Regions from separate parts of the Homo sapiens genome. Here region 2 is linked to region 1. Evidence: fine-mapped expression QTL. A gene starts in region 1. The other region holds a variant in brackets. All regions are shown on one strand. Distances are from middle to middle. Region 1 holds the start of PRADX (PRC2 and DDX5 associated lncRNA). Region 2 holds the start of MIR4298 (microRNA 4298).

What was found. PIP is the estimated chance that this variant, and not a neighbour inherited with it, causes the effect. A credible set is the group of variants that fine-mapping cannot tell apart.
Region 2: its variant is the best candidate, but not a certain one, in a credible set for the expression of PRADX in whole blood (INTERVAL, PIP 0.57).

The regions. Positions count from the first base shown.
Region 1 is chr11:1,758,286-1,762,669 of GRCh38, forward strand. PRADX (PRC2 and DDX5 associated lncRNA) reads left to right here and starts at 2,063. Exons shown (of 2, transcript NR_182291.1): 1 at 2,063-2,909; 2 at 3,034-4,201. CTSD (cathepsin D) reads right to left here. Exons shown (of 9, transcript NM_001909.5): 2 at 3,024-3,183; 3 at 1,231-1,354; 4 at 684-802.
Region 2 is chr11:1,857,023-1,861,406 of GRCh38, forward strand. All of the region lies in intron 1 of LSP1 (lymphocyte specific protein 1), which reads left to right. It overlaps MIR4298 (microRNA 4298), which reads right to left and starts at 2,514; the gene lies at 2,442-2,514. The variant C/T (reference allele first, on the strand shown) is at 1,692.

The sequences.
Region 1 (4,384 bases):
CCCTCCTGGCCCGCTCCAGAGCTGGGGGCTGTGTCACCATCCCGTAACTCCTGAACCCCTTGTGGCCTGGTCCACCCCCAGCAGACAGCTCCGAGGTGAGAACTCACTGAGGCCCAGGCAGGGTGACAAGGGCCAGCTCACCCTCTCCTAGGGCAGGGAGTTGCTCTGCACAGGGCCCTGAGGATGGTGGATGCAGGCGGGGCCCCCAACAGCCACTGCTGCTCCCCCTCCCTTGCCCTCCCAGGCTCCTGCCGGTGACTCTCCGCCAGCAGCCCCCACAGCGGGTTCCTGGTACATCCTCCCAACCCCAAGCCTCCCCAAGCCCTCGGCCTGCTGCAGGGACCCTGTGCAGCCCCAGGTCCAGCCCTCAACACCTGCTGGCACCTCAAACCCAATGTGCCAAAAAGAGCCCGATCGATCTGCCCTGTCCTCCCTCCCACTCATTGTGGCCTGACTCCGGGGACCCCTGCCCCTGTACCCCCTGGGTTTGAGGCTGTCCCTCCAGCCTGCACACAACCAGGCCCATTCCCAGACCCCTCCTCACCCTGCTGACTGCCCCGGCCACCTGAGGGCTGGGGTTGGGCTGGGATCACCGAGCCCTCCCTTTCAACCACATACCCACGGTGGGTGAACCCCACACCCTGGCACCCTCGAGTCCTGGGAAAGGCCCCAGAGGGACTCACCGACACAGTGTCCTGGCTCAGGTACCCGGAGAGGCTGCCCGAGCCATAGTGGATGTCAAACGAGGTACCATTCTTCACGTAGGTGCTGGACTTGTCGCTGTTGTACTTGTGGTGGATCCCTGCCCCGGGCGACAAGGGGGCCCGCCGGTCATCCCGCAGCCCACGCCACGGCCTTAGCCCTCCCATCCCCCTACAATCTACCATGGAGCCCGCACCCCCCAAGCTGCCTCCCCAGGGTGGGATTTGGAGGGGATCTGAGGCCCACCATCATGCCAGAGCCCCGGGACTGTGGGCTGTGACCCCGGGCCTCCCTCCCAGCCACAGCCGGCTCCCTCTGTGGCCACCCCAGCCCCAGCCCTGCTGAGAGCAAGACCACAGCTGGTGGTTCACCCAGAAAGTCAGTGGCTGGAGCAGGGTGGAGGGCTGGCCTGGCTCACGGGGCCAAGAGGCAGGAGAATTGCGTTGCCCAAGTGATTCCTGAGGCAGCCCTGCAGCGACATCCCGGAAGGGCAGGACCTGGGCGACGGGGCCAGGGTTCGTGACTCACAGCAAGCGATGTCCAGCAGTTTGCAGTGGATGGAGGGGACCCACAGGTTGGAGGAGCCCGTGTCGAAGACGACTGTGAAGCACTGGGGGGGCGTCCCGATGCCAATCTCCCCGTAGTACTGGGCCTGGCAGGGGACAGGGTCCGTCAGGGATGGGAGAGGGGGCCCCATCTCCCCACTGGGCCTCAGAAGGCCCGGCTGTCCCCAGAGCCAAGGCCCATACTGGAGGGAGGGGCATCACGGGGCCCACAGCTGCCAACAGCCACCCACTCCCACCTGCTCAGCCTGCAGGGAAGATGGGCCAGGTCCCCAGCCCTCGGTCCTAATGCCCACGGGTACTTGGGGTCTCTAGACCCCTGGCTTCTGTCACCTACCCCTGCTCAATACATGGTGAGGCTGAGGACTTCCCCACGGAAAAGACAAGGCCAGAGGTCAAGCCAGGGTGGGGACAGACGTGGCCCTCAGCCTGAGCCCCGGGTGCAGGAAAGCCCGGCCTGGAAGACTCCCCTGGTGGCCCGCAGTCCAAGGTCTGAGAAAGGAAGTGACTTCCTCCCCAGGTTGGGGCCATGTCAAGGTCTGATTCTGGGTGTCTCAGTGCCTGCCCTGCCCTCCAGGGTGAACCCCAGGCTTGGAGGGCTTCCAGGCAGAGGGGTTCAGCTGGTCAAGGGGAGAAGGTAAGCCTTACAATCACTGCCTGCCCAGCAACCCTGCCTTAATGGCCCAGGGCCTCAGTTTCCCCGTGTGTACACAGGGATAGCAGGCGCAGGTGGGGGTGCTGACTCAGGGATCAGGCAAGTACAAGGGGTCCCATGCCGCCGAGCCTCTCAGGAGGCAGAGAGTAAGAGGGTCCTGGAGTTTGGGGTCGCCTGGGCGCCCGCTTCCCCCAGGATTGGAGCCTGGGCCACCGTCAGCCACCAGATTCCTGGCACCAGCCCAGCCCAATGTTTCTCCAACCGCCTGGCTTCACGGAGCAGCAGCAGCTGCTGACTCATGGCCCCACAGAAGTGACCACTGGCAGGGGGACACTCAGCAAATTTCCATGTGTGTGTGTGCATGTGTGCGCATGCGTGCATCTGCTTGCTCGCGCGCTAGGACAATCAGGAACTGGCCAGTCGGGACCAGGCACACGGCGCCTGGTTCCCCCCAGGGCCCCCCTGGCCCAGTCACATGCCTGTGAGTCTTGGGCTTCCTGTCACAGCCAGGACTCGGGCCAAGCAGGACAGAGGGCAAGGCTCCCCCACAGTGGGCCAGAGCCCCGAGGCTGGACAGTAGGCCCTGGCCTCGAACTGACCCCATAGAGCTGGGACCAGGCTGACCAAGCCCCAGCTTGCTAGGTGGCTTCCAGAGTGCTCCACCTTGGATCCTGCTTCCCCCTGAAGGAGTAGTGGGCACAGGAGGGGCTGTTGCGAGAGGAAGAAGATGGGGAGGGGCTGGGGAGGCCACGAGTCACCACAGGCCTCCCAGCAGGACAGCAGTGAAAGGCTCCAGGTCAGCCGGCCACACTCAGGCAGGCCCAAGGACCGCCCCCTCAGGCGAGCTGGCACCAAGGCCCGAGGCCACTCCCAATCACCCTCCCAGGCCCTAGCAGGACCAAGACCCTGCAATGACAGGGGCCAGTGGCAGGAGGTTCCAGAATGGGGAAGAAAGGAGTGTGGCTGAGCCGGGACGCCACCGTGGCCAGGTGAGCCACTCAAACTGCGCTGCTGAGAACAGGAGGTGGGAATGTTCCCCATACTGCCACGGAGCTCTCCTGACAGTGGCTCCGCTTGCAGCAGGGCTAAGACCTCATACTCACGTCCATGTAGTTCTTGAGCACCTCGGGAATGGGCCCCTCGGTCACGGCTGGCACCGCCTGGGAGTACTTTGAGACGGGGCCTTTGGCAATCAGGTCCTCCACAGAGCCCCCAACCTCCGACATGGTCCGGCGGATGGACGTGAACTTGTGCAGCGGGATCCTGTCAACCACGGGTCGGGGCATATCAGGGAGGCCCTCCCGCCTGCCGGCCGACGCTGCCAATGCTGCACATCCACCTGGAGGCCCCTGGGGAATCTCAGAGTCGCCACAGCCAAAACCAAACTCCTGCCTGTCACCTGGAAACTGCTGGCCCAGCTCCCCCAAGTCAGTGAATGGCAACCCATTGCCCCCCGCCAGGTTGCACAGGCCACAGTCCTAAGAAGTGGTCACCCGCCACCCACCTCAGCCCCACACACCCAACCTGGGGGCCAGTGTGCCCAACCCTCCTCTCCTCAGCCATTCTGGAGGCTCCAAAGCCCCCAAGGGTCTCCCGTCCTCCCTCTGCACCTGCGCTGGTCTCTTCCAGGATGGTGGCCAGCATGGCTGCTCAGGGTGCTGGCGGGTACCTGTCACTCCTGCCCAAAGTGCTCTGAGGCAGCCCACTGTACCCAGCCCCCATCACACCTGCTCTCCACCCCCAGACACCTGCACGAAGGTGGCCCCACCTCCAGGCTGGCACTGGCAGCTCTGCCTGGCCTCCTCTGGCCATCAGATGGGCCCTCCACACCACCTCCAGAAGCCCTCCTTGACTACCTGTCCTCCTCCACATGGACCCTGTGGCTGCCCAGTGCCCTCATCCCACATCTGTTTCTGGGCATCCGCACCTCTCCTCACTCCATGCGGCTCCACGAGGTCCAGGACTGCACCTGGGGCCTTAGAGGCTTCTGTGCTGCCCCCCCCACCGCCCTGCCTCCTCCGACAGCTGCACTCAGGGTACCCCTCCAGAGTCCTGTCACCCAGCACACCGCCAGCCAGGGTGCAGGAGGGAGCTCCAGACTGAGATCGGGGTCCTGAGTTCTAAACCCAGGAAGCGAGTAAGAGAGAGAGGGGTCCCTGCTCCTCCCCCAGGGCCACTGGCCTTCCCCTTGGTGTGAACCCACTCCTTGTTCCAAGGAAGCTCCCCTGGGCTTTTAATCACTTAAATAAAACCTCTTCCCTGCCCCAGGGACTTGAGAGTACAAGGTCATAGCTGGCTTTTCCTGGCTTGTCAGGGGCGTGATCCCGGAAGATGAGATTATTGCCTAAGAGCTGGTGGGCTGGAAGAGCTCCAGGTTTTGTCCTGGGGGAGGGACACGCCCTCCAGGGACCAGGAAGCAGGTGTAATAGTATCAGTCGCACAAGAGCTGGAATCGGGTGAGGGC
Region 2 (4,384 bases), 99 kb after region 1:
GTCTGGACCCAGGATCCCTGGGGAGGTCCCCTTCCTCCTGCCCTGGGTAAGGGGTCTGAGGCATCTGGAAGTTTCCCAGGGAAGCAGAAGGATGTCTTCTTCCTCGTGGGCTGGCAGGCGCTGCTGTCCACCGACACCCAGCTGGGCTGGTCGCACAAGTGGGAGCATCACAGGCCCCACCCCCGCTGATTCTGGAAGCCAGAATCCTTTCTTCCTGCGCCCCCTTCCTGGTTCCCTCGTGTCTCCTAAAACAATCCTGGAGCCACACAAGGGCAGTGCCAGGAGGGTCTGGGGTCCAGCTGGGACAGGCCCTGGCCGGTGACACCCTGGGGTGGCAGGATGGTGGGCCTCTGCTCCGCTACCCTACGGGCCAGCCTGTCTCCACCTCAGTTCCCTGAGAACGTGCCAGAGGGATGGGTGAGCCCTAGAGAAGAGGAGGGTGTTGGCAGTGGAAAGGGCCCAGTGGTCTCCCGCTCTGAGTCCTCAGCCTGGTGAGGGGTGGGGGCGTGAGCTCTGCCTTGCAGTCCCAGCCCCTGAGATCCCACTGCTGGGGCGGCGGGAGGGGGATGGGCTGCAAGGCCCCAGGGCTGGCCTTGCTTCGGCTGCTATAGGCCCTCGGAGTGCTTTCTGGATGAGTAAGCCGCACCCCTCTGAAGCCTCAGTTTCCCCATCTGCACACTCAGAATGTAGCCACTCAGACCAAGCGTTCACTCCATGCCAGTCTTTGCCAAGCTATTTATTTATTTATTTGAGACAGAGTCTCGCTCTGTTGCCCAGACTGTAGTGCAGTGACACAATCTCGGCTCACTGGAACCTCCGCCCTCCAGGTTCAAGAGATTCTCCCACCTCAGCCTCCTGAGTAGCTGGGATTACAGGCACCTGCCACTGCCCCCGGCTAATTTTTGTATTTTTAGTAGAGAAGAGGCTTTCACCATGTTGGCCAGGCTGGTCTTGAACTCCTGACCTCAGGTGATCCACCCGCCCCAGCCTCCCAAAGTCCTGGGATTACAAGCATGAACCACCGCGCCCTGCCTTTGCCAAGCTTTTTAAACCAAGGCTCTTGTTTCATCCCCCGGAGCTGTGAGGCAGGTCCCTGGAGCCTCCCATTTCACAGACGGAAACCGAGGCTCACAGGGGCCAAGTGCATTGTCCAAGGGCTGCTCCCTGCCTGGGGAGGGGCCTGAGTCCTTGCCCCTGTGGGGTTCGGGTGCTGAGGGCCCACAAGACCTGCGGGCACCAGGAGGGAGCTGGGCTGGGCTGCCCTTCCCGGGGTCTCTCTGACCCCACACCACACACCAGCCACTCTGGACTCAAAGGCTCCCAAGAGCACCAGAGCACTGCTCATGGCCCAAGCTCAGCAAGCACTTAAAGGGACCGTCCCGAAAAGCGGAACTGGGACCGGGCGCTGCAGGACCAGCAAGGTCCTCCACTTCCCTCCAGCCCAGCCCCGCCCAAATCCCAGCCCTCAGCATCTTTTTGGGGGCCACTAAAGACCTTCTGGGAGATGGCAGCCCAGGACCATAAGGCAATCGAAGAGGGCTTTCCACATGCGCTGAGGCAGACAGAACCAGGCCCTGGCTGTGGACGAGGCTGTATTGATACTTAGAAGAGAGGGAAGCGAGCGGGCTGGAGAGGCTCGGCCAGGGGGCAGCCCAGCAGGGCCCCTTCCCCAGGGTTAGACTCTCTACAGC[C/T]GGCCCAGCCCCCATCCCCTCCCCAACATCTAGGGACCTGAAAAGAGGTTGGAGGGGCTGCATGGGGGTGGGGTTGATAGGAGATTAGGGGATTGAGAAAGCCAGGCCTCCTAGCCGTGTCCCACCCAGCACGGCCCCACCAGTGCCAGACACAGGCAGACAAGGGAGGAGGGAGATGCTGAGCAGGGGTGGCAGGAGGAAAGCCCCTGGCCCTTTCTTGGGGCCAGGCAAGTCCTATCCTAACTCCATCTGCTAACTGCCTCCAAGCTGCTTGTGGGTTGTCGGGGAAGGGAGTTTGTGGCAGGGAGGGCCTCTGAGTCCCCTGTATCCCCCGGCAGGAGGAGGCAGGCACATGGGCCCCTGACCTCAGTGCTTGGAGCAGGGCCGCTCTGGTGGGGCATTTGTAGGTCACAGCATGAAGGGTTCCAGCATACTTCCTGGGTTCCCAGTTTCCCTGGGAGCAGTGGTATAGACGCAGGGGCCTCTACACACACCACACGCTCAGGGAGAGTGGCTGAGGTGTCCAGGATACTCTGTCCACTGGGGCAGGGGGTGGCTTCTAAGCCCAGTACCCTTCCCAGAGTCCCCAGTCTCCAGCTGCTCATGGGCTGCAGATGAGGATTCAAGGTTATGCAGGGGTCACTCTCCTGCTCCATCCCTGGCAGGTGGGACCTCACCTACTGCTTCTTTCTGCTCCAGAGAAGAGCACGTCCCCCTCATCTCAAAAGTGCCTGTGCTCCTCCTTCCTGAGTGGAACCTACACTTTTGACAGTTTGGTTTCTGAGGCAAGGCTGCCTCCTCCTCCTGTCCCAGGTACCTCCCCTCAGAAAAGCAATGGGACTTGGGATAGAAGGATCTAGCCAATTCGTTCCAGATGAATCTAGAAATAATCCTTTAGCCTTTCTCTTAGACCCAGTCCCAACCAAAATCTGAGCTTCATCACCACCACCCAGCACCCACCATTCACCACCCAGCCTCCAGCCCCCAGCCCCCAGCCCCCAGCCCCCAGCACCCATGACCCACCACCCTGCCCCCTACCCGTGGCTCTGGCCCATTCTCCTGCTGTCAGCAGTGCCTGCTTGAACAGAGGGCCACACTGAACAGATGCATGCTGCAAGCATTTGGAGGCTGCCTCCTCTTTAAATCACAGACATTTATCCACCAGGGATCACTCGGGAGCCAATGAGGCCACCACCCTGACCTCCCCTGTCCCCATGGGCTCTCTCAGTGCTCAAAGCACCTTTCACTGGGATGCTGCTCTGTGAACATACATTCGCAGGTATGTGTCGGGGATGATGAGAATGTGTCAATATGAAGACAGATCCCTGCCCCTGTAGCCCCTGCTTAGGCTCTATTGAGGTGTTCAGCCTCCTGGGCCATGGTGGTCTGCTTTATCCTTGGGCCATGAGCTTATGAACCATGTCTTAGTTGCATAAGAAAGGAAAAATAAAGATTAGAAAAGAATCAATTATGGAGAACAGTATGAATGAATGGAAAGATGAATGAAGAATGATAGGAAGTAGGAACAAATGGATGGATGGATGGATGGATAATTGAATGATGGATGGATGGATAATTGAATGATGGATGGATGGGTGGATGGATGGAGGGATGAGTGGATGGATAGGTGCATGGATCGATGGACAGGTGGGTGAATGGATGGGCAGATGGATGGGGTGGATGAATGAATGGGTTGGATGGACTCATGTATAAATAGAGTATAACTCATGCATAAATAGAAAGAATTATTTAGTAATTGATGAATGGATGAACAAATGAGCAGATGAACAAAAAATAGATGGATGGACAGAAGAACATCTGTATGTATATATGGATGTTTGGATGAAAGAACGAATGGATGGGTGGATAGATAAATGCAGATGTGATATTTAGAATATTTAACAAAGCATGTGGTACAAATATGAATCTACTGGAATGGGTGCTGATTATATATATTCCTATATTGAACTGTGTTGTACCTGTGCATATTGGCTGATCATCAGCCCAACAGCTAAATGAGCAAATGTACCAAAACAAAAGATGAGTGGATTTATGGATGAATGGATGATGGATGAATGGGTGTATAAATGGGTAAATGAATGTATTGATGGAAGGACACATGAGATGGAATTATGTATGGGTGGATGATTGGATGGCTGGAATATGGACATATAAATGATTGGAAAGATTAATAGAAGGATGTCAGGAGAAGTAGACATATGGATGGATATGGATAATAGATGAATAGATGGATACGTGGGTGGATATAACAAGAGATGAGTAGAAAGATAGATAGATAATGAATCAATAGACAATTGAATCCGTGCTGAGTAAACTATTAGAAAGACGGATGTGTGAGTAGACACTACTAAATCAGGAATTTTGCACTCTCTTCCAGGAACACTTCCTCCCATTTCTCTCATCTCTTTTCAAATAAGAAAAGAATTACTTCTTTCCATGAGGCTTTCATATATAAAGACCCAAGGAAAGAATTACTTATTTCCATGAGGCTATCATACGTAAAATATCAATCCCCTCCAGAACTCCATATGCCTTTACCCTGATTTATATTTTCTGTCATATTTTCCATCATCTGACCTTTATTTATTTATGTGTTTGTTCCCACACTTGAAACATGATCATCATAAGAGCAGGGACTTTGTTAATGCTGAATCCCCAGCACCTTCAAAGTG